Linked DNA regions of Homo sapiens: all the other regions are reported to be linked to region 3. Evidence: microRNA targets listed by miRTarBase, many of them from high-throughput screens and not tested one by one. Region 3 holds a microRNA gene; each other region holds the end of a gene's coding sequence.

The links. The annotated mature microRNA hsa-miR-26b-5p reads UUCAAGUAAUUCAGGAUAGGU and lies in region 3 at 1,075-1,095, opposite strand. An mRNA with a match to its seed (bases 2 to 7 or 8) in the 3' UTR can be bound and repressed. Matches are read on the target gene's strand: a 7mer-m8 pairs with bases 2 to 8, a 7mer-A1 pairs with bases 2 to 7 and ends in A, and an 8mer does both.
Region 1: miRTarBase lists DCHS2 as a target of hsa-miR-26b-5p. The part of its 3' UTR that is shown has no 7-base or 8-base seed match.
Region 2: miRTarBase lists ADGB as a target of hsa-miR-26b-5p. The part of its 3' UTR that is shown has no 7-base or 8-base seed match.
Region 4: the mRNA of BMAL2 is a reported target of hsa-miR-26b-5p. Seed matches in the 3' UTR shown: 8mer at 1,094-1,101.
Region 5: the mRNA of GDAP1 is a reported target of hsa-miR-26b-5p. Seed matches in the 3' UTR shown: 7mer-m8 at 2,641-2,647.
Region 6: miRTarBase lists LUC7L2 as a target of hsa-miR-26b-5p. The part of its 3' UTR that is shown has no 7-base or 8-base seed match.

What each region holds. Positions count from the first base shown.
Region 1 is chr4:154,231,160-154,235,245 of GRCh38, forward strand. It overlaps DCHS2 (dachsous cadherin-related 2), which reads right to left. Exons shown (of 20, transcript NM_001358235.2): 20 at 583-4,086. The coding sequence ends at 3,377. All of the region lies in intron 12 of LOC101927947 (a long non-coding RNA gene), which reads left to right. Among named protein-coding and RNA genes, the nearest start is that of DCHS2, 260 kb to the right of the region's middle.
Region 2 is chr6:146,814,807-146,818,895 of GRCh38, reverse strand. It overlaps ADGB (androglobin), which reads right to left. Exons shown (of 36, transcript NM_024694.4): 36 at 3,434-3,864. The coding sequence ends at 3,679. Among named protein-coding and RNA genes, the nearest start is that of ADGB, 220 kb to the right of the region's middle.
Region 3 is chr2:218,399,663-218,403,751 of GRCh38, reverse strand. MIR26B (microRNA 26b) reads right to left here and starts at 1,106; the gene lies at 1,030-1,106. It overlaps CTDSP1 (CTD small phosphatase 1), which reads right to left and starts at 3,884. Exons shown (of 7, transcript NM_021198.3): 1 at 3,595-3,884; 2 at 2,040-2,188; 3 at 1,537-1,641; 4 at 1,347-1,403; 5 at 625-717; 6 at 335-520. The coding sequence starts at 3,661. RefSeq lists silencers at 3,437-3,596, 3,757-3,836, 3,907-4,089.
Region 4 is chr12:27,419,912-27,424,000 of GRCh38, forward strand. It overlaps BMAL2 (basic helix-loop-helix ARNT like 2), which reads left to right. Exons shown (of 17, transcript NM_020183.6): 17 at 485-4,089. The coding sequence ends at 621. The region is part of intron 1 of BMAL2-AS1 (BMAL2 antisense RNA 1); the gene reads right to left. It also overlaps a transcript of SMCO2 not described here. Among named protein-coding and RNA genes, the nearest start is that of BMAL2-AS1, 25 kb to the right of the region's middle.
Region 5 is chr8:74,363,594-74,367,675 of GRCh38, forward strand. It overlaps GDAP1 (ganglioside induced differentiation associated protein 1), which reads left to right. Exons shown (of 6, transcript NM_018972.4): 6 at 392-3,283. The coding sequence ends at 774. Among named protein-coding and RNA genes, the nearest start is that of GDAP1, 15 kb to the left of the region's middle.
Region 6 is chr7:139,421,968-139,426,056 of GRCh38, forward strand. LUC7L2 (LUC7 like 2, pre-mRNA splicing factor) reads left to right here. Exons shown (of 10, transcript NM_016019.5): 10 at 196-1,487. The coding sequence ends at 373. It overlaps FMC1-LUC7L2 (FMC1-LUC7L2 readthrough), which reads left to right. Exons shown (of 11, transcript NM_001244584.3): 11 at 196-1,487. The coding sequence ends at 373. LOC100129148 (a long non-coding RNA gene) reads right to left here. Exons shown (of 3, transcript NR_033999.1): 2 at 1,318-1,418. Among named protein-coding and RNA genes, the nearest start is that of KLRG2, 60 kb to the right of the region's middle.

The sequences.
Region 1 (4,086 bases), not on the chromosome of region 3:
CACTAAAAATTACTTTTTAAAAGTCCCTACCCATCTACTTTCTTGTATTTCTCTACTTGTGTCCTAATTATTCATTTTAAGATTTAATTGTCTATTTCTCTTCTGTCCCTGCCTGCCTCTCCCCCTCCCTTCCTCTTTCACTTTTCTCCTTCCATCTTTATAGTGGGTAAAAACTCCCACTGAAATGCTTCGTTTGGGTCCTAAGCAAATCTTCTGCAACTCCACTGGATCCCAGTATCCCTCCTGTACAGGACCATCTTCCATTCTAAGTTCCTTCAGTTATGGCCAAATAGATGTCTCTATACCTTTGAGCTCAAGTAAAACACGCTGTGAAAATAAACTCAATTTGCTTATCTGGAATATCACGTGAGAATACACTGACCATATTAACGCCATATATTTTATTGCTTTGAAGTGGATTATCTTAGATCCTTAGTTATGTCTTGCTTTTTAAAGTTAAGGTATGTATAGAATGGCAGAACAAAAGTAACAAAGTGTCTGTTTGGATGAAAATAACTAAAATTTACAATTAATTTTCATTGCTATAACTTCTAGAAAACACAGCAAGGAGGGCTAAAGGTGAAGGTGCTGAGAAACACAAATCCTGTCTCAACTGGACGTCTATTATAGATTGAATATGAATACATGGAGGCAGCCAGTAATGTAGAGTGCATTTTAATAATTTTTAAAAGAGTTAAATGATCAAATCCCTAAAGATACAGCATTTTTCTTTTTCTTTGCCCAGGAATCTGTTTTGGAAGCCAATTCAATGATTACTACTAGGACATGGAATTTTGATATCCATTTGGTACTGATTTACACCAGTATTTTTAAGGCTGCCAACAAGAAAGTCCAGAATTTCATCAGGCAGCCAAAATTCCACAAGAGACAACTGTCTTTTATTTTATAGCTTATGAATTTGGGGCTTAATATGATTTTCCACTAACAAGTTCTGTACCCCCTCCAGAGTGCTAAAGCCAGTGCATAGATCAGCAAAGTAACCCAGAACATATGAGGCAAGTTAATATTAAACTTGAAGGAAAAATGTACAAATTATATTGTTTACTTAGGAAAAAAAGCACTCTAGTTGAAAGAGCTGACATACGATTTATTGCAAACACTTAACCAGCGTGTTCACATTTTTAACCCCATTCCCACTTGTAGTACTTGTTTGGTGGCATTGTGGCACTGGATACAGACTGATAAACCCATCAATTAAAAATCCATTAAATATTGGTAAAAAAGCTCTATTACATGTCTTCTCTTGTTATGCAATGGCTAGAAAACATACAGAATCACATCCATAATGAGTAAATAAATCACAGTAATAAATAACTAACTTAGGGAATAGGTAGATGAATAACTCTTTTTAAGCATAAGTAAATGAAGAACCTGTTTAATTAAAAACAACAAAATGTTCTTAGTTTCCAGAAATAATTCTATTGTGAAAAGAAAACTTCCATATATAATTAGGAAAATATAGTATAGGGTTTCTTTCTATGCTCAAAGCAATGTTTTCAAAAGAGTCAGAGATAATAAATACTGGAACACATAAATGATTAAATATGTGTGGGTTTTTTTTTTACATAAGTCATGAAATCTTCTTCCCCAGATGCCAGGAAGAAAAGGAGAAACATCATATATCAGTCCCATAGTATTTAAATTTTCTACTCCTAAAGGATTTTTCCTAGGATTTCAGGCTTATTCAAAAACCTTCATGTTTCATACAATTTGTAATATAGCTTTATACATTTGTTCCCAATCTCAGTCAGCATAGATAGATAATAGAAAATATCAGCATAGGAAGCTGTAGAATTACTTATCTACAAAACCAGACATCAAACACTGCACCTTGCAATATTTTTTAGTAAAGAGAAATTATGTCACAAAATTTCACAGATGAGGCCTATGGAAGAAGAACACAAAGGAACTATATCTGTAGTAGAAGCCCATCCTAACTACTAAGAAAGCCACACGATACCCTTTAGATTTCACATTAGAATTCCTAAACTGTTAGCCTAACACCTGGCCCTCATGCTGACCACAGGAAGAGGACTTCTGAACCACCATCGTCAGGATGCTGTCCACCTTCCTGAAAGGGATGAGAATCTGTGAGGGATTCCCAGGCTTATCAGAAAGAAGGCTAGAGCATTGTATGTGAGCACCATCTAGCACTGCTATATTTCTAAAATAGTAATTGTACAGAGTCATTTTAACCATGTGCCAAACTGCTCCATCTAATGACAGTTAAATTAAAGCTGCAAGTGTGTGAGCAAATGGTAAAAAGACTTCTGACTTCTATTCTTAACTTTTATAGTAGAAACATTTCCATAAAAAACTTCATTTAAAAATATATTGCTAAATTACTCTATGAGATTTATCATTAGCTAATGACATGATTTTTATCTACACAAATTTTAAAAACTGACATTGAGTGGATAAATTATTTCACACAAAAAAGTTACTGTATCTAGAAGAAAATAAAATGAAGACATTGCTATAAATTAACCTTTGAAGTTTAATGTCTTTACCCACACCTACTTATAAGACAAGACCTGAAAAAAAAGCCATTCTGTTTGTAAAGAAGGCCAAGATAATATGTTTCAGGTGGTAGCAAACCACATAAATATTGCGAGTATCAATCCTGGCCCTCTATCAGGAACATGCATTTCTGGTTTATTGAATCATGAATAATTATTTATATTACCTATCATTATAAATCCTATTTGTTTCTCCCTATTGTCACAGAGTTATGACAAATTTCCTTCTGAATTTTTTATTAGTTTTCCAAAAGACTCCACATTGAAATTCAATTATGGCTAAACTCTACAGGTGTGGTATATGGGGAAAAATGGAGAAATACTCCTCTAAATATATCAGATCCACCAACTATTGCTTTATCTTAAAATGAAAGTTTATTCCTCTAGACTTCCCCTCTCTGCTATATGTTCTGACCTAAACTCATTCTCCATTTAGCCTTTACTAGTTTGTTTTTGATATAGCAGTGTGATCAGCAGCAATGTGACCAGAGTACACTATATTTTGTTTCCATATAAACATTCTGGCAGTCAGTTAAGTTCACTGTGTCCTTTGGAAGTCTAATCATACAGACAACAGGTCTGACAGAATATACACTACTTAATATATACAAATGTGAGTCCTGAGAGCAACACATAAGGATTAAAAGAGGAAATAACTTTTCATTAAGGCTGGAAGAAATTGGAGAAACTTTAATGGGGAAGTTTTAAAAACTCTAACTAAATTACATCACTTGCTTTTAGATAAAAATGAGCCCAATCTCGAGTTGCTGGCTTGAAAACATTTTGTTCATTCATTCATGACCAATGGTGAGCAGGTACTTGGCATCCCAGTGGTTTCATATTTGAACTTCATCTTCTGCTTTAAGTTCATGGCATGTACCACTGATGTGTGTTCCTAATAATTCTCCTTCTCTCAACAGTGGAGACAAGGCAGGAGGCTGCATCGTCAATAGGGAAAGAGATGGAGAAAAATTGGGAGTCATGCCTTCTGGCAGAGAACCAAGATGGTAGGGGATGGGAGAGCGTGGGTGTTTCGGAGGCACCTGCCCCAGGTTTACTGCCGGCATTCTTGGTGGGACTGCTTTAATCCCAGGCTGGGCTACTGCTGTTATCAAAGGGGGTGGAAAAACAAAAGATTTCTTCTCTTTTGGAATGCCAGGCATATGCAAATGTTCATCCTTTAGTTTTGCAATATCATTAAATACTGAGGCAAGAGGTTGGAATTTGGGCTCCCAACTAAGAAGATAATTCCAGTGATAGTTGTCTTTTCCATCATGATCAGAGGTCGTCTGAGTTGAAAGAGCTGCACACCTTACTTCCTGATCACCTGAAATAAAGACAGACTCTTTTCTAACGTCAGCCAGGATGCTCTCTTTTGCCTCTCTCTTCTGAACTGTCTGGGGTAACACATTATTTTGAGCACAGGTGGTGCTGCAGCCTTCCCCTTGATCTCCTTCCCCAAATGTTTGGCTGGCTTCTGCTGTTTCGGCAGTCACCATCACATCAGTTTCCCCAGATAGGCAGGAGAGCTGGTCTGAGTCCCTCG
Region 2 (4,089 bases), not on the chromosome of region 3:
AGCAGGCTGGGCACGGTGGCTCACATCTGTAATCCCAGCACTTTGGGAGGCCAAGGCAGGCGGATCATGAGGTCAGGAGTTCGAGATCAGCCTGACCAACATGGTGAAACCCTGTCTCTAAAAAAAAAAAAAAAAAAAAAAATTAGCCAGGCGTGGTGGCACACACCTGTAATCCCAGCTACTCAGGAGGCTGAGGCAGGAAAATCACTTGAACCTGGGAGGTGGAGGTTGCAGTGAGCTGAGATCACACCATTGCACTCCAGCCTGGGAGACAGAGGGAGACCCCATCTCAAAAAAAAAAAAAAAAAAAAAAAAAGGCACAGCAAGAAAAGTAAAAGAAAGCAAGTGAAAACTATCAAACAAATAATAGCAAAAAATATCTGAAAGAAAGTAATTGATCAAAAATACATCATTTAAATTATAATGACAAATTGTTTGCAGATGAATTTTTATCTAACTTAAAGAATATATAATATTAATGTTAGTACTTGAATATCCTGAATATATATATACACACACTACCTGAATATATATATACACACAGACACATATATGTATATATAAAATTCATAAATTTATGAATAAATTATGGTATATTTGTACCATGGAATATTTCATAACAATTAAAAAGAATTAACAGTGACTTCAAGAGATTCTGTGTTGTTTGGTGAGAAAAAGCAAGACACATTGTATTATGCTTTAAAGAATGCCATTTTGTAAAACAAACCAGGATATAATATAAAATATTGAGGTGTGAGCATATGAGATGAATGAAAAATATGGAAACATTCAAAATAGGTTGTTTCTATGTATGTACTTTGGGAGCTGGGGTCATAAGGTTGTGAAGCTAAGAGTAGGCAAAGAATAATGTAAAAATGCACATTTGCATTTATTAAGTAACATTACATATACAACTGGGGAGGTGTATAAAATATTAACTTTTTCATGTAAACTTAAAAAATTTTTTGAAAAATAAACATTGTATATTTTCAAAGTATACCACATGATGGTTTGATATATGTATACACTGAATAATGATTAATATATTCAATTTAATTACTACTATTGATTCTGATGGCACCATCCGTTCTGTGCCTGAGATACACAATTTGTCAGCTTATAACTAAATGTTTGTACTCTTTGACCAACATCTCCCCATTTCTCTCACCCCTAAGTCTCTGGTAACCACTGTCCTACACTTTGCTTCTATGAGTTCAACTTTCACAATTCCACATGTGAGTGAGATTATGCATTATTTTTCTTTCAGTTTCTGGCATATTTCACTTAGCATAATGCCCTACAGGTTCATCTATGTTGTTGCAAATGGCAGGATTTCCTTCTATTTTATGGTTCAATTATATTCCATTATATATATATATACCACATTTTCATTATTCATTCATCAATTGATGGACACTTAGGCTGTTTCCATATCACTATTGTAAATAATGCTGCCATGAACAGAGGGTTGCAGACCTCTCATAGACATACTGATTTCGTTTCCTTTAATATATACCCAGGAGTGGGATTGCTAGATCATATGGTAGCTCTAGTTTTAATTTTTTGAGAAACTTCCATACTGTTTTCTGTAATGGCTATTGCAATTTACATTCTCACCACAGTGTGTACAGGGTTCCCTTTCTCCACACCCTCCCCAACACTTATCTCTTGTCTTTATAAAAGCCATCTTAACAGGTGTGAGGTGATACCTCATTGTTGTTTTGATTTGCATTTCTCTAATGGTTAATGATGCTGAGTACCTTTGCATATACCTGTTGGTCATTCCTGTGTCTTCTTTGGATTGGTGTTTATTCAAGTCCTTTGCCCATTTTAAAACCAGGTTATTTGCTTTTTTTGCTATTGAGTTACATGAGTTTAATATATTTTAAATATTAGCCCCTTATCAGATATACAGTTTACAAGTATTTTCTCCCATTCTATAGATTGTCTTTTCATTTTGTTGTTTCCTTTGTCGCGCAGTAGCTTTTTATTTTTATGTAGTCCTACTTGTTTATGTTTGCTTTTGTTCCCTGTGCTTTTGGTGTCATCTCCAAAAGAAATTGCCAAGACCAATGTCAAGGAGATTTTTTTGTAGGCAATCTTCTAAGAGTTTTATGAGTTCCAATGTTACATTTAAATCTTTAATCTATTTAATTTTTTTATACAGCATAGGGCAATGTTCCTATTTTATTCTTTTGCATGTGGATATTTAGTTTTTCCAACATCATTTTTGAAACGATTTTCTTTCATCATGTGTATTTTTGGCATCCTTGTCCAAAATTAGTCGACCATATATGGGAGTATTAAATATTTTTAAGCTAGGCATGGTGGTTTATGCCTGTAATTCCAGCATTTTGGGAAGCAAGCTGACATGGATGGATCTCTTGAACTCAGGAGTTTGAGAACAACCTGGGAAACATGGCGAAACCCTGTCTCTACAGAAATTGGCCGGGTGCCATGGCTCCAGCCTGTAATCCCAGCATTTTAGGAGGCCGAGGTGGGTGGATCACCTGAGGTCAGGCGTTCAATACCAGCCTGGTCGACCTAGTGAAACCCCCGTCTCTACTAAAAATACAAAATTAGCCAGGCGTGGTAGCCACACCCCTAATCCCAGCTACTCAGGAGTCTGAGGCAAGAGAATCACTTGAACTCAGGAGGTGGAGGTTGCAGTGAGCTGAGATTGCGCCATTGCACTCCCGCCTAGGCAACAAGTGTTAGGAAAAAGCTGAGTGTTGGGACAAAAACTGAGGCAGGGCTTGCATGTCTGACATAATGTCCTCTGGAATGTGTCTAGACTTGCTGGCTCCTTGCTTCTAGCCCTCCTAGGCTCCTATTCCCATTATCTCAAGTAGCAGAACATGTTCCACATAAATGCTAAACCGTCACAGCTGTAGATGATGCGCCTGCCCTTTTGACCTCCACATTCTCACCACCTGTTTCTTTGTTGATTACCAATAAATAGCGTGGGCTCCCACAGCTCGAGGCCTTCGCGGCCTCCACGATCGCAATGGCCACTTGGTCCCAGCTTTCTCTCTCAAACTGTCTTTTTCTCAATCCTTTGACTCCGCTGGACTTTGTCACCCCCACGACCTGGTGTTGGGTATGATCACCCCAATAACAAAAGTGAAACTCCATCTCCAAAGAAAAAAATTAGGAGGATGGCTTGAGTCCAGGAGGTGGAGGTTGCAGTGAGCTGAGATTATACCACTGCACTGCAGTTGGGCAACAGAGTGAGACTCAGTCTTAAAAAAAAAAAAAAAAAAAAAAAAGGCATAATTCTGAAGCATAGTTATTAGTATTTTTAAACCTTTAAAGTTTAAGACTAAATTTCTTCTAAGAACAAAAGCCACTTTTCTCATTGCTGAAATTTTCAAAGATAATCATGTTGCTTAATTTATGAACTTGTTTCACTTCTAATTAAAAATGCAGGCAGTTTAGAGTGTCAAACATATTTTATTAAATATTTGGAAGCTATTTTATTGAAATTAGAGCATCTTAAACTCAAATGGCTTCAAATACTAGCTTTCTGAGGAAAACTAACAAGTTAGCATTAAAATATTTCTAAGAAAGAGAAATTTCTATTTTCATTTGGCCTAATATCTTAACAGCAGGCAGTTAAAGATCATTACAAATAGATTTTTTCTCTCCAGAAGCAGGGTAGTATTGGACATCCCCTGGTTACTTTTTCTTTCCTTTCTTTTTTTTCTGTGTGTCAGGAGCTGGGGTCATCTTTTCTGTCTCCAGCTTCATGGCTGCTTCCTGAGCAGCCAGAGTTTCCAGCTTTAGGTGCTCAGCTTCCAGCAATTTGTTTCTGTACTCTTCCCGGATGTCGAAAATTTTCTGTCGGGCTTCATCTAAGGAGTCCTGTTCCAAAGCAAAACCCCAAACAAATAAGTTCCACTGGTAAAGGCTTATGTTCCCAGAAAGAAAAAAATGAAATTCCTTTACCCTGTCCTTACGCCCACACATTCATAGGCAAAATGATTGAAGATGAAAATTAGTGTATGGTCTCAACAGCTTATCAGTACACAAAACATAGCGACAAAATCATGAGATTTTAACACAGTATGGCAAAATAAAAACATTTGT
Region 3 (4,089 bases):
TTAAAATTCCCAATCAGAACCCACTAAATTAATTCTGTGGGCCATCAGTAGGTCACAACTGGCAATTCGAAAAATTGAAACTTTCCAAACTCCGTTGCCCTGTGGGGGCCCCTGTGCATGGCAGATGCTCTGCTTTGTGCGAGGGGAAAAGACCATATGGCTACAGGGCAGGTGGATGAGGGGAGTGGGCGGCAGGCACAGGCAATGAATGCAGGAAGGACTGGGAGGGCACCCACCCCCCAACTGGGGATCCAAGAGGCCAAGGTGGCCTGAATGGACTGACCCCTTCCTGGGTCTCAGCTCCTGTCCCAGTCCCAGTCCAGCCCGCACTCACAGCATTGTCTGGATGGAAGACATAGGAGGCAGGTGAATTGTCCAGGATGAGCACCCGCCGCAGGTCTCGACCCAACCGGCTCAGGTCCTTCACGTAGTTCCCCCGGTGGAAGACGCAGGACTCTCGAAACAGCCGGGCCCGGAAGGCCCCCCATTTGTCCAGCAGGTCAGCTACTGGGTCTGCGTACTGGGAGCAGGAGGTGGGTCATCCTGGGGCCCGCAGGTTCATTGGGCTGCATGCGGGAGGTAGGTAGGAGGGCAGGGTTGCCCCGGGACCCCTGTGGGGCTCACCTTGGCGAGGCTAGCAGTGAACAGCACACATTCAAAGAGCTCGCCCATTCGCTGCAGGAACTCATCCACGTGAGGACGCTTCAACACGTAGACCTGGGGGGCGGGCCAGTGAGGGGGCTGCGGGCCAGTGGGGCAGTGTGGGGGTGGCCGAGGGCTGGCAGGGCATGGGCCAGGGAGGCAGAGGCGCACAGGAAGGAGACTGGGCCCGCAGGCTCCGCTTGGCCAGCTACCCTGACCACTGCTGGGGAAACTGTACCCACCCCCCGCCAGAAAACGATCAAAACTTCCACTCCACTGGCCAGTCCTACCTCACGAGGTCCCTAATTCCCAATCCCTTCCCCTGCCTCAACCTCAGCCTAGTGCAGGAATCCAGGGGCAGCCCCCTCACCCCAAGGCTGCAGGGCACCGGTCCCCGAGCCAAGTAATGGAGAACAGGCTGGACAGCACACAACCTATCCTGAATTACTTGAACTGGGTCCCGGGCAGGGTGGGGCGAGGGAGCACAGCACGGGGGAGCCTAGAGGAGGAGCCCACTCTGCAGGCTTGGAGTCAGCACAAGCCCTTGAGGTTCTGTGTGACTTTGGGACAAGTCTCACACCCTCTCTGGGCCTCTGACATTCCACATGTATCCAATTCCCATCCGAGGCGCTCCGGATTGGTGGGAAGAGCCTAGGGTCTGGAGGCAGATGCCAAGCCCACCACTGCCTCTTCCTGGCCCTCACCTGGTGGACCACCCCATCAATCTCCACAGGGATGATGAAGTCCGCGTTGTTCACTGGCTGTGGGGGGAAAAGAGCTGCTGGAGTTGGAGGAGGAGCCCCAGGGCATGGGGTCCAGCACACACCTCCCTCCCAGGCCAGGGTGGGGGATGCCCCCCGAGACCCGGGCTGAGGGCTGTTGAGCAGGGCCCACCTTGAAGGAGCTGTGCACCAGGGTCTCGTCCAGGTCGATGACCACGCAGATCTTGTCTGAGTCCTGGGCCTTGGCCTCAGGGAGCAGGTATTGGACTGGGGTCTGCTGTAGGGAGGGCGGGGCTGGCTGGGGTGCCTCTCTCCGGGCCTGGTCCTTCCTCCCACGCAGGCTTCTCCCCCTAGCCGTCTCCAGAGGAACCCCAGGCCCCAGGAACAGATACTTCCCCCTTCCCAGCTTTGCCCCTGCCAGCTCTAGGGCTTGGGTAGGCCTCTTGGCTCTTTGAGACCTCTCTAAAAACCAAGGTAGGAAAAAGCTTCCACTTATGAGGGAGAATTCAGTTTCCCCACAGTGGGCAGGGCCTGGCAGGGGAGGCTGCCACCCTCCTACTCTGCACCTTTCAGGTCTGCAAGTCCATCCTGAAAAGCTCAGTCAGGAGCCCCTTCCCCTAAAGCCCTGAAGACTGAGTCCAGGTGCCCCCGTGGCCCCACCTGGCCCCCACGCACCTTAGGGATGGCGCCATTCTCCTCCACAAGCAGGGGCGCCCCGCTGTGAGCAGGCAGGGCCTCCCCATCATCCCGGCAGACACAGCAGAAGAGTGAGTGGAGGATGCCCCGGCTTCGGGGCTTCTGGGAAGCTGCTGACTTCTGGTCACCTGAAGTAGGGAGGCACAAGTTGGAGGCTCGGTGCACACTGGCCTGCAGAATCCTGCATGTGTGCCCAGGTGTGAACCCCTGAGCCAGGAGGATCTTGCCGTGGCCCCTTCATCCAGACACACGAAGGCAGCTCCTGACTTTCTCTGAAACGCCCCTGTCAGGGCTCCACAATCAACTGCAAGGCTCCTGCAGCTCCCAGACAAATAGGTCTAGCAGGTATTAAGGCGCCCACATAGGGAGTGCGTGGCCTGGAGAAGGAGGTCCTGGGGTGCTCTCTCCCTGCCTCTCACAGCCTCCATGACTGCTGCTGATCAGCCCCATTGCGGTGCCTCCTGACCCCACCTTACCTGAGCACCCCTGCTCAGGACAGCCAGGGCCTGGGACCCAGGGCAGTCCACCCCTGCCCTCCCTCCATCCTCTCCACCCCCGTGGGTACGAAGTCCTCACTGCGGCTGGGCCCAGAGGCAGGGGTGCAGTCCCGCGGCCTGGGGCCAGTGTCCAGTGGCCATCTGTTTGCCCTGCCCCGCCCAGACCTCCGACCTGGAGCCCAGCAGCCTGATTGACAGATACCCCTCCCACCCCACCCCCCTCCGGCCCCCTGCAACTAGCCTTTCCACCTTGCCCTCAGTTCCGGGGCAGCCAGACCCAGGCGAGGGTGGGCAGACCTGGGGGCAGCGTCCAGATCCTGAGGTCCACACGGGGAAAAGGAGAAGACAGACCCCCCCACCCCGGCCCAGCCACGCTGGGGGACGCAGCCTCGTCGGGGCGGCGAGGCTTTGCGGGGTGGTGCGTGCCCACTAGGCGCACGACTCTCCCCGCGGGCGCCAAGCGACTCTTGGAAGTGCCGGCCGTCCTCTCTGTGCCTCCGAGGGGGTCGGCGCCTCCACGCGTGACGCGAAGTTTGTGGGGAACGTAGCTGTGTGTTGGCGGGAGATCCCTCCAAGCCTCCCCAGCCTGCTGTCACCTCGGCGCCCCCTCCCAAGACCCTACCGGACCGCAGCCCGGGGGGGTGGGGGTGGGGGGTGGGGCGGAGTCTCAGCGGGTGGCCCATAGGCGCCCTCCTCAGCTCCCCCATCTCCCAGCCCCATTGGCGCCAATGGTGGGGGGGCGCCCATGCACCACGCAATGCCTGCCAGGAAACCCCCGAAGAGTTCCCTCTCTATTCCTGCCTCAGTTTCCTCACCTCGAGCGAACAGGAGCGCCCCAAAGGCGCCAGGCCCCGCCCCGCGTCTCTGAGCCTCCTCTGAGTTCAAACTCTCTCCCTGCTCCCTCTCGGGCTGGGAGCTTCGGGCACAGCTAAGGCGGCCGCCCGGGGCGGCGGCGGCGGCTCCCCTGGGGAAGATCCCGGCCCCTTCTCTCCTCCCACGGCGCCCCGGCTTCGGCCCCCTCCCCGCAGCCCCGGTACCTTTGCCCCGCAGCGGGCCCCGAGCCTCCTCCTTGCTGATCTGAGTAATGACGGCCGAGCTGTCCATGGGGCCGGGCGCGCTCCGCTCCGGCCGGACTCTGGCCCGGGCGCCCGGCCTCCCCCCCGGCTGGGGCCGGAATCGGGGCGCGGGGGGGAGGGGAGGGGTGGGAGGGAGGGATCCCCGCGAGCTCCGGAGGGGAGGGGAGCCAGGTTCTAGGGGGGAGGGGGAGGGAGGGGGCGCGGAGGAAACTTTGTTACAACATGGAGTTTCCTTCCCGCGAGGCGGATGCAAACATGGAACCCAGGCGCCGTTTCAAGGCTCCCCCTTAAAAGGGCAACGGCTTCGGCGTGACCTGGACTCGGCTGCGGCTTTCGCCACTTCTGGGACCGGCGCGGCTAGGCGGACTGGGAGGCGGGCCGGGCCGGGTTCCTGCCGCGCTCCAGGGGGCGTCGCCTCCCTTCCTGCCGCCCGCCGGCGGGGCTGAGTCTCTGCGG
Region 4 (4,089 bases), not on the chromosome of region 3:
TCCAAATCTTTAGAAGATGCTTCTGTCTCAGGCTTCTCATTTCAGTATTAAACAGATAGGGTTTTTTCATAAGCAGATTAAATTTTCTCCTTCCAGGGTTTGCGCGTGCACACACACACACACACACACACACACACAAACATACACTAAATTTCCTAGCTTCCTTCCAGCTCTCTGAGAGTCTGTACCCTTTAGCAGTGTAATTTCCTATTAGAAAACTCATAGACTAGCTTACTTCTCTGTAGCAGATGAATTAGGTGCAATTTATCTGACAGAAGATTGTTATAAAACTAGGTAACCCATTTAAAAATACATCAGCCATCTGCAGCTTAAGATATATACTTTGCCTTCAAAAATACATTTTATGGTTTTCTAGCCTTGCTTTGCCATTTTTTATCACAATCATTTTTTAACCTCAAAATGTGTGAAATGTATGACTTTACTGATCACCTTTACTTACACAGGCCTGTATTTTAATTCATAGGTGATGGTGCACAGTTGGATTTCGATGCCCTATGTGACAATGATGACACAGCCATGGCTGCATTTATGAATTACTTAGAAGCAGAGGGGGGCCTGGGAGACCCTGGGGACTTCAGTGACATCCAGTGGACCCTCTAGCCTTTGATTTTTAACTCCAAAAATGAGAAACATTTTAAAGCATTTCATTTACGAAAAACTGTCTCAACTATTCTTAAGTACTGTATTGATATTGTTTGTATCTTTTATTAATGTTCTACCACTTTTTATAGATTTGCATCTTCCTGTCACAGGGATGTGGGGAAATACGTTTTCCTCCCAAGAGAACCAAGTTTATTATAGACTCCTTTATTCAGTGAAATGGCTTATAATCCACTAGTTGCCATATTTTTGCTAAAATATTTCTAACCAAGAATACTACTTACATATTGTTTTGGCTTTGTTTTATTTTTGATGCAGTTTTTTTTAGTTGAGGTAATGTAATATATTGATGTTTTCCTTTGTGTCTAAGATTCATTTATAATAGTAGGTTTGTATAATTTGGAACATTTTCCATTCCTTGCGAATTTCCTTAATTGAGGATAGGGCTTACACACTTTAAGAAAACAGTGAGTACTTGAACATTTAAAGGGACAGTGCAATTTATAGTCATAATCACATTGAATACTGTATTTGATCTTTGGAGACTTAGGCAAGCACAGAGCTGGGATATTTATGCTCAGTTGAGCACTTTAAGATGAATTTTAAGTGAGATGATTTCTTGCTTAAAACTCAGAAAGTCAAAAGAGTTTCAGCTTTCCTTACAGAAAAGGAAGGATCTTGGGCCCTAGATCTTGGGGATTAACCTCTGCATATAAGATTTACTCTTAATAGGCCAGACGTGGTGGCTCACGCCTGTAATCCCAGTACTTTGGGAGGCTGAGACGGGCAGATCACTTGAGGTCAGGAGTTCAAGACCAGCCTGGCCAATATGGTGAAACCCCGTTTCTACTAAAAATACAAAAAAAATTACCCAGGCACTCACTCTTGAGGTAACTAACCAACTCCCACGATAATGACAGTCCATTCATGAGCGCAAAGGCCTCATGACCTAATGGCACACACCTGTAATCCCAACTGCTTGGGAGGCTGAGGCGAGAGGATTGCTTGAACCTGGGAGGCAGAGGTTGCAGTGAGCCGAGATCGCACCACTGCACTCCAGTCTGGGCAACAGAGTGAGACTTCATCTCAAAAAAAGTAAAAAAAAAGATTTAATATAATCACTGAAGATCTCTATTATAGATAGATTAGGTTTTTGACATTGGAAACATACTTAGGGATAGATTTGTCCTAAAGGAAAAAAGTAGGCCCGGGCAGATTAAATGTCTTGTGTAAAGTCACACATTAAATTCAGTCACACATTAAATTCATAGAGTTTTAAATGTTTAATGTATATAAACCAGTTTCTTTATACACATTTGGGAAAACATTGGTCTCACAGATTAAATGATTAACTAACTGACCCAGGAACTAGTTGTAGCTTTCTAAGTAATTAGGCAATTACAGTTATTGCCTGTAACCAAAGGTAATAAAACAAAATGACAAGTACATGTTTAAAATTATGAGGCAATGAGAAATAATTTAAAAACCAATTTTCTAGTTATAATTTAAAATTTGGAGAGCATTTTTAACAGTAATTAATCCAGAGGTGGCTCAAATTGAGTATAAGAATTAAGATTATTTAAAATACTGCATGTCTACCTTCTCGGGGATCATACTTTATAACACTTTCTGCTTCAGTAGCTCTTCATAGCTTGCCAAGTATGCTCCCATATTTTCTCTCTCGTGCCTCGCAAATGAAAGTCAGATAGGCTGGGAACTCATGGGGCAGCCCTCAGACTTCAATGTGGGCTTCAAATCCAGTTTCCTGTTCTATATGGTGCTACATCTTTCCAGAAAATTTCCCTCAGAGCCCCTCGCCAAAACAAAGCATTATTTTGACCCTGCATGCTATTTCTTTAGCTGTAGGTGATAGATTAGAACTTCTGTCAGACATGTTAATGACAAACATACCAACAGACAATAACCAAAAGCAAATGTTTCCTTCAAGTGTGAAATGTGCAGGGGCTTCGTGGGCAAGGATGTATTGGCACACTGTCCTCTTGAACTGATAGTGTCCCAGCAATGTTGGAGGGTTGGCACCATTCCTGGTCCGACACTTGAGGACCTGAGAGACATCAGGTTTAGAATGAGCCAAAGAAATCCTACAAGATGGGGAGAATTGGTGTGCAGCAGCCTAAGTGTTATAGTTAAGTCTAAAGAAGTATGAAAGATCCCCTGTGTTCTCTAAATTGAGCAGAGGGGCCTGCCTACCAATATCACTTTTTAGGGGACTGAACCATTGCAGGTTAGACTTGGCTTCCAAAGAGTCTGCCTAAGCCAGGGGTGGCAGGGTAGGCCATCATAGCTGGATGGCCTCAAAAGCAGATGGGGGCAGACTTGCCCTCGTGATGCCAGGATTTGAGAGGCAGAGTTTCTAGAGGGAGACCAGTGCTGCCTCTCACAGTGGCAGTTTTTTCTCTTTGCAAGAGGAGGGGCTGTTCAATTCCATAGACCAGTGGGCAGATAGCCAGTTGAATACTCTGTGCATGGTTTGATCCTTTATTAGTTCGCTCTAATATTTTTCTGTAGATCCTTTTGTCCTGGACTCAAAATCTAATCCATGCATTGTATGATACCGTAGCTCTCCTAAGGTTTGTGTTTCCTTCAAAATGTTTTAGTTTTCTTCAACTAAATTTGATTTTTGCTGTTAGAAGTGACATATTTTTATGGTATACACTATGTTCCTTTTTTCTACTGCGAGTCAATTTTTTGAATTTTCGTGAGAAAGAATATATCTACAAATTGCACGAAAGTATCATAAAAACAGTACTCTAGACTTTTCTTTTCTTTTCTTTTTTTTTTTTTTTTTTTTTTTGAGATGGAGTCTCGCTCTATCGCCCAGGCTGGAGTGCAGTGGCGCGATCTTGGCTCACTGCCATCTCTGCCTCCTGGGTTCACGCCATTCTGCCTCAGCCTCCAGAGCAGCTGGGACCACAGGCGCCCGCCACCACACCTGGCTAATTTTGCTTTGTATTTTCAGTAGAGACGGGGTTTCACCATGTTAGCCAGGATGGTCTCGATCTCCTGACCTCGTGATCCGCCCACTTCGGCCTCCCAAAGTGCTGGGATTACAGGCATGAGCCACTGCGCCCGGCCTACTCTACACTTTTTTTAACCCTAAGAATTACCACTACAGTAATGTAGTGGAGTGGGAAGAGTGCCTGGAATCAGAAGACCCTGTTGAGGCTGAATTTAGCTGTATGACCTCATGCAAGCCATTTAAACTCTGTGCCTCAGCGTCCTCATTTTTAAAAGGAGGTTTGATCTCTATGTTTACTTCCAGCTCTGATTCTGGGATTCTAATCCACAGGACTTGGGTGTTAGGGTGGAACCTAGAACTGTGCTGTCCAGTGCAGTAGCCACTAGCCACATGTGGCTACTGAGCACTTGCAATGTGGCTAGTACAAAGTGAGATGTGCTATCAATGTAAGATACATACCAGATTTTGAAGACTAGTATTACCAAAAG
Region 5 (4,082 bases), not on the chromosome of region 3:
AGTGATGTTTCAGACTCAGCTTTATGGATTTTTCTAAAGCAGAACTGTTTTTATAAACCAGAAGGAAGTTTCTTTTAACTAGCTTGGAGGCTCCCAACCCCTTAGTGTCCTTTACAAAGTGATAAGCTCAAGTGGCTGCAATCTTACATAGGGACCTGGATGGCTGACAGACGTCAAGCAAGTCTCCTTTGGCCTAGGATACGTTTGCATGGACTTTTTTTTTAAAGCATGAAATTATTCTCTGAGTGTGGCTGTCAAGAAAATAAATATATAATGTCCTTCATCTTTTGCTATACTCACACTCACCCTTAAGGGTGAGACCACTGATACCAGCTGGAGTCTGTCTGTAGAGTGCTTGCCTCTAATTCTCTATGTCCCTTTCTCTAATTAGAAGAGGGCCAGCAACCTTGGCTCTGCGGTGAATCCTTCACCCTGGCAGACGTCTCACTCGCTGTCACATTGCATCGACTGAAGTTCCTGGGGTTTGCAAGGAGAAACTGGGGAAACGGAAAGCGACCAAACTTGGAAACCTATTACGAGCGTGTCTTGAAGAGAAAAACATTTAACAAGGTTTTAGGACATGTCAACAATATATTAATCTCTGCAGTGCTGCCAACAGCATTCCGGGTGGCCAAGAAAAGGGCCCCAAAAGTTCTTGGCACGACCCTTGTGGTTGGTTTGCTTGCAGGAGTGGGATATTTTGCTTTTATGCTTTTCAGAAAGAGGCTTGGCAGCATGATATTAGCATTTAGACCCAGACCAAATTATTTCTAGGTTTGTTGGGATCTTGTCGTGGCAGCTCATCCAAGCATTTAGCTAGACCCTGTGATTGCCCGTGGCTCTCTGAGTCTGTCTTATTGAGTAGTTAGCAGTATTTTTTCCTAAAATTCAGAAGTCATCTTTGTTACACAACACAGGGGTTCAGGTAGCAATAGGACACAAAATTGCTTTATTCTACAACTGCCAGCTCCAGGCAGAAATAGGAAGGCAAAGAGATAAGAGAAGGAAAAATGAGAGAATGAAGTCTGTATAGGGTAGAGCAATAGAAAGTAAGCTTCGGGTGCCTCCAACGTTCATGGCTGCCTGTCTCATTGGTAAACCTCACATTTAGTTACTTGTGGCTACTGCCCACACATACACTTCTGTAATTGAGAACTCTTAGGAGAGGACTAGGGAATCACTGGGGATAGTGGGCTGGAGAGAACCCCAGGCTTTATATGTATACTTTGACCTCAGTGTTAATTTTAAATGCTTATGAATCACACACATTGCTTTAGTAAGATTAAGTGCTTATATACTAGAAATTTGATGCTCATTGGAACACATCTGCCTAGCATTTCTGTAAAAGTCTTAAGTGATATTAAGATGATTCCTTACCATTTCAGATGGTCCGCAATTTGAATTACCAAGTGGTAATGGTTCCTTACTGTTTTAGATGGTGCCTGTGAGATACCATTCCTCTGGATGGTCATGTCCAGTCAGTGGGAGGTAGAAAGGGTGGCATCTGTAGCCCTCTTCATACACATAAGTGGCATTTAGGTGAATGTCCCAGCTAATCACTAGCATGTCTAGGTATTGGCTGGGTAGTGGGTATTTTGATGATCTGGGAGCACCAAATATGTTCATTCTTCGTTTGGGGAGGCTGGTCTGTAAACACAAAAATTGTTGTCCAGATCTTTCATCTGTTTATGATCATCAACAAAGACTTGTTAGAAAGGTCTAGTCTTAGCACTTGGCAGTTAATCTAGGGAAGATGAATTAAATGGGTAGATAGTGATGCATACCTGTATTCACTGATGTATGTTTAAGGGATTTGGGGGGGATACCTCAGTTCATGTGGAAGGGACAGTCTCGGTGTGTCCCATGAATAACCTTGGAACTGCAACAAATGGTTTGTGCTCAGAAAAAGTCTTTCATGGTGACAGGAAGACAGTTTCCCTGGAGCTGGCCATGAAGGCCTTAGAAGCCATTTCTGGTGTCTGGTGGGTAGCAGGCATAGAGATGATGTGCCGAGGTCCCAGTGAACAACAGTAGCCAAAGAATGTACTAACTTTATCATTAATAGGAAAGTCATACCTAGGAAACAATGACTTTTTGATGGCAAAATGATTTTTTAATTCTATTTTGATGCTGTAATTCCATTTCATGACCTAGTTGTATTAGAAAACCTTGATGAACTATATGTTCCCGATTTACAAAAAAATTAATAAAACCTCCAGAGTAAACTCAGTCAAACAATAATTGAGTAGCAGCTTTTATAACATTTAAAATTTGCACATGAGTGTGTTGTCATATGGAGTGTCTGAATCTGTTGCTGGGACATACCAATCCATGTATTCATTAGAGCCATAGAAGTTATTATTCATTAGTTCATAGTGTTTGAGTTCTTTATGTCACTCTGTTAGAAACAAGAACTGAGTCGTGAAGAAATAAGAATTGGATTTTTATAAAAACCTCTGAAGGATATTTACCTATGAAAAAGTTGTTAAGAATAAAAATTAGAAGTCCATGGTTAACTTTTCCTTCAATTTATATTATTCCTGAATCATAGGGAATCTTTCTAGAATGTGTTTATAATTTCCTTGTACAGTTTCTTTGGAAATACGTTAAAGATAGTGGCAATTTCATATATTTCATGGATACTTGAGTTTGTGCTTTTAAGGTGTTTGTTTAGGGATACAATGACCACTAGATGTCGCTGTTTATCCAGTAGACTAAGATTGAGTGTTCTTTTTGTTCAGCAACTCTTCTAAAATGTTTCAAGCAAAGATAGTAATGACCTCAGTTTCTGAAATAAGGGCATCTTCATCAGATTATTCTTCTGTTTTAAAAAAAAGCTTGAGGCAAATGTGAGTGATTTCCAGTGCTTTGAAAGGGATTACAGTATCACACAATGTCAAGCTAGAGTTAAACACAGTATTAGCTAAATAGGCACTTATGTGTATTTTCTTTTTCATGATTATCGGTGACTGGTCAGTGTACTCATCAATTTCCAAAATTTGTATAAATATCACAATTAGAAAAATGCCTGAGGTACTAAAGTTATGTTGGCTTTTTGTGTCTTAACACACATAAATACTATTGTTATTGCAGCAGATGCCTTTTGAATCCATTTTCCATAATTGCGGATAGTCATAAATTGCTTGCTCAATTTTTAGTAATTATTGCTGTTGACACCAGCGTTGTAGATTTTTGGTGTTGTTGAATGCAGTAGAGAGACCAAGACACTATTCTGTAAGATCAATAAAAGTAATTGGAAAATAAATATGAACCCTAAAACAAAGTACTCACTTTGTAATCTTTTTTGGAAAACAGATATATTTTTTTCATTTAAAATCAAAGCATCATGTGGTAGTTAAAAGGGTAAAATAAGCAGAGGTTAGGTATTCAAGATACTTAGCTATAGGATGCCATATTTTCGTTATAACAAAATTGCTGACTCTTGCTTCATTTAAATATGCACGGTTAAAATGAATAGCGGCCTAAAGAATAACACTGATCTCTCAAAAAAAAAAAAAAAGAATAACATTGATGCTGCTCATTAATATAGCTCTGTTGCAGCCAGCCACCTACCATGGGAGAGCATGAAAATGATGAACACTGAGTACTTATCTTTGCAAAATAGTTTTCTTACATGTTTACTGGGTTTCAAGTATTACTCATATTTATGTATATTTTTGACATAGCTAATTCTCTTTTATTGAGTATGGATTATTCATATTGAAATTACCTTCTACATTTCTAGCTTAGTAAGCTTAGCCATTCTAATCAAGTAGAAATTGAGTACTTTCATTTTGCACTGAACAAAGCAAATTAAATGCAAGTCTAATTGGCATTGTTTTCCTTGAATTTACAAACAAGAACAAAGGGCAACAATACTGAATACTTATGGAAAGTCACCTGAATATCTAACTTCGTAGTCTGCTCAGAAAAAAAAAACAGTATGGTAAAGACATGAAGGTGAAATTAATGCAATAAATAAATCAGTATTCAGATATAACCATCATATTGTTTATGCCAACTATTGGCCCATTTACTTGATCTCTGCTTACCCATATCAGAATGTCTTGATTTTATAATAC
Region 6 (4,089 bases), not on the chromosome of region 3:
TTCACCCATCTTCTTGTTTTAATGCCCTTATCAACTATGGTAGTGCTCTGTAATTTGTCAGAAAACTGACTCCTCTGTCATGGGTATATTCGTCTATATATCTTCAGCTATCAAGAGCTTAATATTTATCCTATTCTTTAATTTGGGTTTTTGGGTTTCCCAACATATTTTGCTCCTCAAATTAATATTTTTCAGATCCTCAAAAGAAAGATTCAGAGACCAAGACTTAGCATCATGTGACAGAGACAGGAGTTCAAGAGACAGATCACCTCGTGACAGAGATCGGAAAGATAAGAAGCGGTCCTATGAGAGTGCTAATGGCAGATCAGAAGACAGGAGGAGCTCTGAAGAGCGCGAAGCAGGGGAGATCTAACTAGCTGTGTACATTTCTTCAGTCCTTAAGCTTCCTACGGAGTTACGTACTATTGTTTAGTTCACAGCTGTTCAGGGTGACAGTGAGCAGATCCAGACACCAGATCCAGCTAGGCTAGATGTACAGTATCTAACTTGATCTGAACTGAACCTGTTTTCCTTGATGATGCCTAAAACTACATCCATAGTTTCTGGTGAACCTGTAATACAGTTCTGAAAGTACAGTTTTATATAATAAGATGCTGATCTCTTTATTCTTTCAAGTAAGAGTGCTAGTGAACAAATTGTGTTACTTGCCTTGGGATTTTTTGAACGTTTGTAAAATGCTGTCTTCCTAGTCCAAACAGCTGCAGCTTTGGGCATTTTTCTTTTTAATTATTCTTCCTCTGACTTTGTATCCCTTAATACCTACACTCTCCAATTGTAAGAGAAAGGGGGCAGGGAAGCAATATAGCTTCCATTCTAAGGCTGTATTCCCGTTATGAATTACTAGCTGATTACAGTTCAGAGCATTGATCCTGGAATGTGTGCTGGAGAAATTTAAAATACTGGGGTTTTTTGTTTAATGGTGCCTATTTAGAGTTGGAAGTTGAACAGCTGTTGCATTACATACTTTTGCTTTTTTATTGAAATTTTGAAATCAAACGTCTTGATTTTTCTGTTCTGTTGAATTGCTATGTTCAGGATGTTCTAGGGGGTGGGGGCAGGGACTCTTTTCGTAATAAGCACTTGTTTTATTTTGTGTGTGTGGAGTATAAAGGCTACACCCTTATTGTAAAAAAATAATAATAATAAAATGAAAGAAACAATCACCACCACCATTATTAAACTGTAACTTGTCTAGTAAATTGTCACTAGAACTATTTGCTGTGGGCATTTCCTCTATTCTGTTACGTCATTAACAGTGCCTTACTGTGCAAGGCACCAAAGGACATAAATACGTACTTGCAAAGATTCCAGATGAGCTGTTCATGTGGGCCCCTTGCTGACTATATTCCAGCCACTTCAGGGTTGTTTGTAATGACCGTTATAGAGAAGGGCTCGACCTGCAGAAGAAACTGGGGTGTTTTTATTCTCATTCAACAAACCCAAATAAAAACAGTATATGTAACCAACATAATGAGACTTAAGTTTCTGCCTTGAAGAGTTGTATATCCGTTAGTAACTTAAACTGTAATTGGCAGGTATCACTTGTGATTCTGGAAATTCTGAGGAACACAGATTCCTTAAGTAATGAAATTAGTATCTGTGGGTATCATTAACTAAGGTCACCTTTCAAGAACTGTTAATGTCCTTTGTCCCCAAGTTTGACAGATTTGATGTCAGAGGCATGTGGGCCTCTGTGAAGGTGCTGAGAGAATGGGAAACTAAGGCCATTCTAAGTGATACCAGATTACGTTAAAAACCCTCATCAAGTTCCCAATTTACCAAGCTATGCCTCATTAACTGAGGGTTTTCTGCTGTATTTGGTTCCACACATGCAATTTATATGGCATTTAATCTGAGAGACCCATCTGCCTCAGTGGCCCATTTCCCTTTTATTTTTGGTTGCTAAGAAATGTTTTGTATCTCCTTTGTTCCGGGTAGTCTGTGCTGTTCTAAATCCTTACAAGCACTTCAGATTTCGTACATTGGGGTTCGGAGTAAGATCAAAAGGACTAGCTGGTTGGTGTGAGGAAGAATGTCTGGGACCTGGCCCATTATAATAGTATATCTGGACTTAGATTTTGAACTCTAAAGCATATGTACAGTTGGAATGGAACACTTGTAGAAGTAACACAGGTCTATATATCAATGGTTACTGCAGCTGTGGTTTCTAGATGGTATAGGCTGCCCCAACATGAACAGGGCATAAAGCGCACCATCACTGTGGGGCTGCGTGCCACAGCGGACCACTTCAACCGCATGGCTCTTTACATGATTGATGCCACTGAATTAGAATAAAATCTCAAATCTTAATATCACTTTCTCATACACAATTTTTGGTCTTTCTGTGTTGGTGACTGGTAGAAAGCATAAGTAAGTATATTGTATTTGCAAAAAACTTTTGTCCCTCTGGGGAGTGTTTTGCTAAGTTTTTACCTTCAGTAAGGTTTCCTTCATTTTGCTGTCATCAAGTATTACCCTAAAGCTCCTTTGCTGAGCTTATCAACACCAACTAAAACTAAGGAAAAAAGCCTCCTTAAATAGGTATGTTTTTTATTTTTTTGAGACGGAGTTTCACTCTTGTTGCCCAGGCTGGAGTGCAATGGTGCAATCTCAGCTCACTGCAACTTCCGCCTCCTGGGTTCAAGCAATTCTTCTGCCTCAGCCTCCCGAGTAGCTGGGATTATAGACGTGCACCACCACGTCCGGCTAATTTTTGTATTTTTAGTAGAGACGGGGTTTCGCCGTGTTGCCCAGGCTGGTCTTGAACTGCTGGCCTCAGGTGATAGGCCCGCCTCGGCCTCCCAAAGTGCTGGGAGTATAAGGCATGAGCAACCCCTCCCTGCCCTACCCCTGCCAGGCTTGTTTTTTTTTTTTTTTTTTTTGTTTTTTGTTTTTTTTTTGTTTTTTTTTTTGTTTTTTTTTTTTTTGAGACGGAGTCTCGCTCTGTCGCCCAGGCCGGACTGCGGACTGCAGTGGCGCAATCTCGGCTCACTGCAAGCTCCGCTTCCCGGGTTCACGCCATTCTCCTGCCTCAGCCTCCCGAGTAGCTGGGACTACAGGCGCCCGCCACCGCGCCCGGCTAATTTTTTGTATTTTTTTTTAGTAGAGACGGGGTTTCACCTTGTTAGCCAGGATGGTCTCGATCTCCTGACCTCATGATCCACCCGCCTCGGCCTCCCAAAGTGCTGGGATTACAGGCGTGAGCCACCGCGCCCGGCCCAGGCTTGTTTTTTAAACAAAGACTTTCTTACCTGTGATTATTAGACCTAAAACCAATATACCTTTATCTTTTCCAAGTTCCCTCTTTCCCCTCCATGTTACATTTTAAGCATCTATTTTTAGTGATAGCTTTCAACATTGGCCTTTTGAGCCATCGCCCAGTATGCATTACAATTTCCACAAACACTTTTGCCATTTGATGTCGTAAATTCTTTCAAAATGGTTTTTAGGTAATGATTATGTACATCATTTAAGTTTTTCCGAATAAATGCTGATTATAATTGTTAAATGTTCATAGGTTTTTTTTTTTTTTTTTTTTTTTTTTTTAATGTAAGGTCTTCCTGTGTCACCAAGCTAGAGCACAGTGGCATGATCTTAGCTCACTGCAACCTCAATGTCCTGGGCACAAGTGATCTTCCCACTTCACCCTCCCAAGGAGCTGGGATTATAGGCACGTACCACCATGCCCAGCTAATTAAAAAAAAAAAATGTGTAGAGGCCGGATATGGTGACTCATGCCTGTAATCTCAGCATTTTGGGAGGCCGAGGCAGGCAGATCACTTGAGGTCAGGAGTTCAAGACCAGCCTGGCCAACATGGTGAAACCCCATCTCTACTGAAAAAAAAAAAAAATTAGCCAGGTATGGTAGCACACACCTGTAGTCTCAGCTATTCGGGAGGCTTAAGGCACGAGAATCGTTTGAACCCGGGAGGCAGAGGCTGCAGTGAGCCGAGATCGCACTCCAGTCTGGGCAACAGTGTGAGACTTCATCTCAAAAAACAAAACAAAATTACCGGGCATGGTGGCACATGCCTGTAATCCCAGCTACTCCAGAGACTGAGGCAGGAG